Linked DNA regions of Homo sapiens: region 1 is linked to region 2. The links come from fine-mapping of genetic effects on plasma protein levels. A gene starts in region 2. The other region holds a variant in brackets. All regions are shown on one strand. Distances are between the middles of the regions.

Evidence for each region. A credible set is the group of variants that fine-mapping cannot tell apart. PIP is the chance, under the fine-mapping model, that this variant and not a neighbour inherited with it causes the effect. The UK Biobank Pharma Proteomics Project read protein levels with antibody pairs (Olink). The fine-mapping took linkage between variants from a reference panel, not from the people measured, so its PIPs are less certain.
Region 1: its variant is the best candidate, but not a certain one, in a credible set for the plasma level of the ANXA5 protein (UK Biobank, PIP 0.87).

Annotation. Positions count from the first base shown.
Region 1 is chr4:121,646,305-121,649,222 of GRCh38, reverse strand. All of the region lies in intron 2 of LOC105377402 (a long non-coding RNA gene), which reads left to right. Among named protein-coding and RNA genes, the nearest start is that of ANXA5, 49 kb to the left of the region's middle. The variant G/T (reference allele first, on the strand shown) is at 1,398.
Region 2 is chr4:121,695,575-121,698,492 of GRCh38, reverse strand. It overlaps ANXA5 (annexin A5), which reads left to right and starts at 1,513. Exons shown (of 13, transcript NM_001154.4): 1 at 1,513-1,630; 2 at 1,869-1,912. The coding sequence starts at 1,904. RefSeq lists a silencer at 1,145-1,564.

The DNA.
Region 1 (2,918 bases), 49 kb after region 2:
GTTACCTTAGAAGCCCTTTATATATATATATAACGAGATTGTGTAAGCTCCACCAATTTCTTTTGTGATATCGAGGAAGGGGGGGTGACTCACAAAGCATGATAAAGTTTGGGGAAATATTTTATTAATATGAAAGATGAGGAATTTAGATTCTGACATGATGTGATTTTTAAAAAGAGATAATAGCATGAAATGTCTTCATCTTAGTGTTGTGGGGCAAATTTGAAGCATCTGTAGTGTACAGTTTAGCAGCTAATTAGCTGAAGCTAATTAAAAGGAAGATACCTAAAATTAATTTTTGATGATAGACATTGCTCTGTAAATTTGGAGCTTTAAGGTGTGTATTCACAGATTATTTTCTCTTTAGGAACAGGATTGCTAAATTTGTGTAGGTTATTATTGAGGCACAGGCAGCCTAAAACATGCCATAGTGATTTGAACAGTCCACTGTAGTGACTTGCTGTGTGGTTCACTTAAGAGGCAGCTCTACAACATTCCCCATCCCCTATTGCTTTCCATCAGCCACTGCGTCAAAGGCCTTGCCACATTCCAGGCACCTCATGGGACTTGGAAACGGGATGCAGGCCCAAAATCATCGAGAAGGAATCTCTCTACTGCCCTTCTATGGCCCCACCTCACTTTCCTCTACTCAAAACATGTAAATACATGGCCTTGATATTTAAAATATGAAAAAATTTATTATGACATTAGCTAAATATAAATGACTAAGTTTCAATTTCTATATTTATAAGAGATATAAGTTAGAGATGAGAAGATGTAGGCCCCATTACATATGTAAAAAAAAAAAGATCCTGTGTGCATTCAATGATTGATTGTTGAATGAATGCACCATAGTCCCTATGTGTTTTATACAGCCTCTGTATATAAAACACTTACAGCAAGCATGAGATAGTGTGATGAGCATGGCCTTTGCCATCAGAGGAACTCAGATTTAAATTCTGACTCTTCCCTCTTGGGCAAATCACTTGTCTTTAATTGGGAAAATCACTTATTTTCAAGATGGTACTAATAAGAACTTCTGCATAAAATTGCTATAATGATTAAACAGGGAAACATAAGTAACACATCTAACAAAGCACCTAGAATATAGTAATTATTCAATAAATATTTTGTGATAGTTAAGATAAACAATTCCAGCTGCTGTTAATATCTAAATCCAGAATTCTCAGACACTTAACCTTATCAAATCTATTCCTCACTCATTTCAGTGTGAGTATTTCTGGATGGGAGGAATTTTATGTGATCATTTAGGGAATTTCATGTAATCATTTAGGGACTAAGTCTCCTTTCTTTTTATGGCTCTGTCCTCTATGTCCTTAGAATTTTCTCCATTTAGCCTATAGATGGAGAAAGTAGGGTGATGTATGGGAAGTTTT[G/T]TTGGCATGCACCACTTCTCCCCATTTTCCATTAGCTAGAACTCTGTTATAGACACAAATGTAAGGGAGACTAGTTAATGTAATTTTGTTGTGTGCTTAGAAGAGAACGTGTGTTTGGTGAGCGTCTAGTTAGTTTCGGCCACAGTTTTATTCTCCTTCCTCTTCTATTTTTCTCTTTAAAAATCCAGGGATATTTTTATTTATTATTGTTGAATGCTTTTTCTTTTTGAAGGTCTAATTCATCTAGAATTTCTTATACATAAAAAGTCCTTTTTTGGTACCTGACCAAGTAGTGATCAAGGTTTGTATCAAAACCCTTGAAGGAGATGAGAGAGGGGAGGAGAGAGAGGGAACAACATGCAAGCATATTTAGTGCTTGTAAGGATGAGGTGAAATAGGCACTCTCATTTCTTCCTCATGAAAGAATAAATGAGTCCAACCCTTCTGCAGGGAAATTTGATTTAAAATATTTATACTGCTTGACATGGTAATTCTAGTTTTTGGAAATGACCTAAGGAAATGCTTTGAAATGCAGATATAAATCTGTGTAAAAAATGTTCACTATAACATTATTCATAGTAACAAATAATTGAAGACAATCTAAATGAAAACCCTAGGGAAATGGTTAAATAAATTATAGTATGTACACATAATGAAGTGTTATACAGCTGTTAGAGATAATCTTTAGGAATAGAATTTAACAACACAAAAACGCTTATGCTAAAATGTTAAGTGATGAAAATAGAATATACAGTTTTAAAGACAGTGTAATTCTACCATGGACAGAAAATATTCAAGAAAAATATTGGATATAACCCATGTCTATATCTAGAGTAGAATGGATAAATTAAATTATTACATATCATTTAATGGAATATTCAGCAATGAAATAAACTCCAGCTCCACCAAATAATGTGAATAAATCTTGCATATACATTGTTGAGTGAAAAAAGAATCAAGATATAAAATACATATATTATGATTTAATTTATATAAACTTTAAAGAAGAGACAAAATTAAAATAATAATTTTAGTAACACATGCTTATTTGATAAAATTATAATGAAAAACAAACAAGTAACTAGTAAATCTTTAGCAAGTCTAAGAATTTCCATGAGATTTTTGAAAACCTTTAAGGAGAAACATATAAATAAAACATGGAATTTTCTGCTACTCAAGCAGGTGTGGGGTGAGAGCATCAGTGTTTGGAGTACTAATGTAAAGGTGACCTCATTTGTTCATGCAGCCTGGTAAAACCTGGAACACACAGTTCCACAATCTACTGGTTTATAGTCTTTGGTAGCAAGTAGCAGAAATAAACTCAGGTACTTTGTATAAAAAAGAAATTGATCGTGAGTATATTGGATATATCACTTGGTTTTATTTAACCCCAAAGTAAACAAAAACACAATTACATCTGGCTTAAATAATATGGACCTTCATTATCTCAAGTAACAAGAAGCCCAGAGGTCCCAGAGTTGGCTAATTCAGTAGCTCAATCAGAGACTCAGGTACCTTTTG
Region 2 (2,918 bases):
CTGGAATAGGCATGTGGTTCACACGTGAAAGCGAATGAGAAGTTCTATACAAAGAACCACATTTGCTGTCCATTTAATTTATTCTTCCTCATTCTCAAAGAAGACTAGATCCTCATCTCTTACCCTTAACCTCCACGTTGAGAAGCACTTTGCCCTTCCCATTCTAGCATATGTCTAGAACACTGCATCTAGTGTCGCAAACTTGTCCTCTTGCCCCCTCTGCCCTGGCACCTTCCCTCCCCACACCAGTAAGTCTGAGAAGGTCCCTGTGTCTTCTACTTTTCCTTTTCCAGCATATGGAGACAAAAGTGATTATATCCCGGATGCTAATCCGCCATGTTGACCTTTAATAACCCCAGTCCCATGAATACCTCCTGATTCCTAGGATTTTTTTTTTAAACTGTCCTTAGCATAAGAACATGTCAACCTTGATGCTATTGCCCACATTGTAGGCTATGAAGCATACGGCATTCTCACCTGTTCCGGAGGGCTGCCTTTAATTGTCTTGCACAGAGCAGTATACTCTTTCCTTACGGTATATAAGGCCAGGGTCTGGGGAGTAACAGTGCAGAAATTTATCTGCTTGCCGCCGCCCAAGGCCACGCTTCTGTCTACCACATCCTCCAATAGCACCCCTATTACCTACAGACTGGATTTGTCTGTCTCGTTCTTTGGTTTCTTGACTCCTTCGCGTTTGGGGGCTGCTTTGCATATAAAGCCCTTTCACAGAACACAGCACCATGCTAGTACAATACGCTGTAGATTCTCCCTCCCTCCCCCTCTCTCTCATATACTCATATATTTTATGTTGAACCAATATGAGGCATTGCTCAAATTTAAGTCATATTAAAGTTCTAGGCTAGTTTTGAAAACAGAAACTGATTGGAAGCAGAGGTTTTCAAATAGCCCACATACGCTACTAGAAGGCTGTACATTTAAGAGAGGGCCATCTAGGAAGCAATAATAGGCATTAAAACAACAACAAAACAACAAAACAAAACAGAAACAAAAACAACTTGGGAAACGGCCCTCCTTTCACGTTTTTTCTATCCCATCGACAAAGGCGCGCTGTCCTTAGCTGCGATGATTTTGTCTCGCCTCCAAAAAGACGCCCACGCACTATGTTGAGCACCCAAGTGAGGCTACGGTTCCTGCGGTCACAGAGGGCAGGGAGGCTCAAGCACCTCCAAAACCCCGAGCCCTGGACAGCTCCCCAGGCCCTTCCCGCGGCGCGAGGACAAGAGGTCTCCGGGGCCCTCGGGGGAGCGGCGCCTCCTCCTGGTTCCAGCAGCTCTGCGGCCGCTCCCCACCCAGGCCCGCGAGACCAGCGGGACAGTCCGCGCCGCGGGAGACCAACTGGGACGAGCCGCGACCCACGCAGGCGCGCTGAGGCCGGGGCAGGGGCGGGCCCGGCTGGCGCGGCCGGCCTGCGGTTGGGGCCCTGGCGGGGGTGGGACGGGCCAAGCCGGGCAGGGCCGGGGTGGGGCCGCTGGCGTTTCCGTTGCTTGGATCAGTCTAGGTGCAGCTGCCGGATCCTTCAGCGTCTGCATCTCGGCGTCGCCCCGCGTACCGTCGCCCGGCTCTCCGCCGCTCTCCCGGGGTTTCGGGGCACTTGGGTCCCACAGTCTGGGTGAGTGGTCGCAGCCCGGGGAGGGGGCTCCTTCTGGAGAGGAGAGCGTGGTCGCGGGGCACTGGATTCGCGCGGACGCTCGGCCGAGAGCTGTCCCGGTAGCTGCGAGAGGGCGGGTCGGCCCCGTGGCGGGGCCCTCCGGGCTGTCTGAGCGCCGCCGGGTCCCCGCGGACCTGCGCTTGGGGAGGGCACGAGTTGCAAATGGCGCGCTAAGCCCGAGGTTTCTTCTCTTTTGCAGTCCTGCTTCACCTTCCCCTGACCTGAGTAGTCGCCATGGCACAGGTAAGGCCGTGCGCCCCCCACTGCGCTGGATTTACCCACAACTTTGTATGCTGCGACGAGGGACTTTTAGGATTTGTCTGAGAGCCAAAAAGTTTAGGAGGAAAGGGAACCTGCTTTGGGGACATCGCTTCCACTTTTCTTGTTCCCCCTTTGCTTCCCTGCCCCCGTTTCTGTGTCCCGGTTCTTCCCGCTGAGCGCCCTCCGGAACCAGCACCGACGCCGCCAAGCTGCCTTCGCGCGCAACAGCTGGTGACGTGGCCGGATTTGTGTGCGCTCCCTTTTCATGAGTGAATGTGTAAAAGTGGGCCTTCCCCAAAATCCAGAGAGTAGCTCAAATTAGAACCGGAGCAAGAACAGCTCATCGTGGTCATGTGAGGCGAACGCATTCCCCCCCCACCCCGCCCCCCGACTTCCTTTATTTTTTTTCCGCAAAGTTTTCTGTATTTTAATACTGTGATTGAGCATTGGCTTTTTCCAGTTGCTCAGCCCAGTTTTACTAAAACTGTAGGACGTAGGCTCTGATTTTTTTTTTAATCCAAAAGATTAAACACAAGCGCTGTTTTTCTTAAGCAATGAACTCGTGGAACGAGTTCTCAATTGAATTTGCCTTGGGACTGTTTCAGAAATTGATAATCTACTACAGGCTTTCTTTACTGTTTTTTTTTTTTCCTTTTTTTTTGAGACGGAGTCTCACTCTGTCGCCCAGGCTGGAGTCCAGTGACGTAGTGATCTCGCTCACTACAACCTCTGCCTCCCGGGTTCAAGCAATTCTCGTGTCTCAGCTTTCCAAGTAGCTGGGATTACAGGCGCCCCACCATGCCCAGCTAATTTTGTATTTTTAGTAGAGGCGGGGTTTCACCATGTTGGCCAGGCTGGTCTCAAACTCCTTGCCTCAAGTGATCCTCCCGCCTCGGCCTCAGGACTGTAATCCCACTGCGCCTGGTTTCTTTACTGTTATTAATGTTTATCAAAAATGTAGGAAAGAGAAGATAGTTTAAGGTCTTTA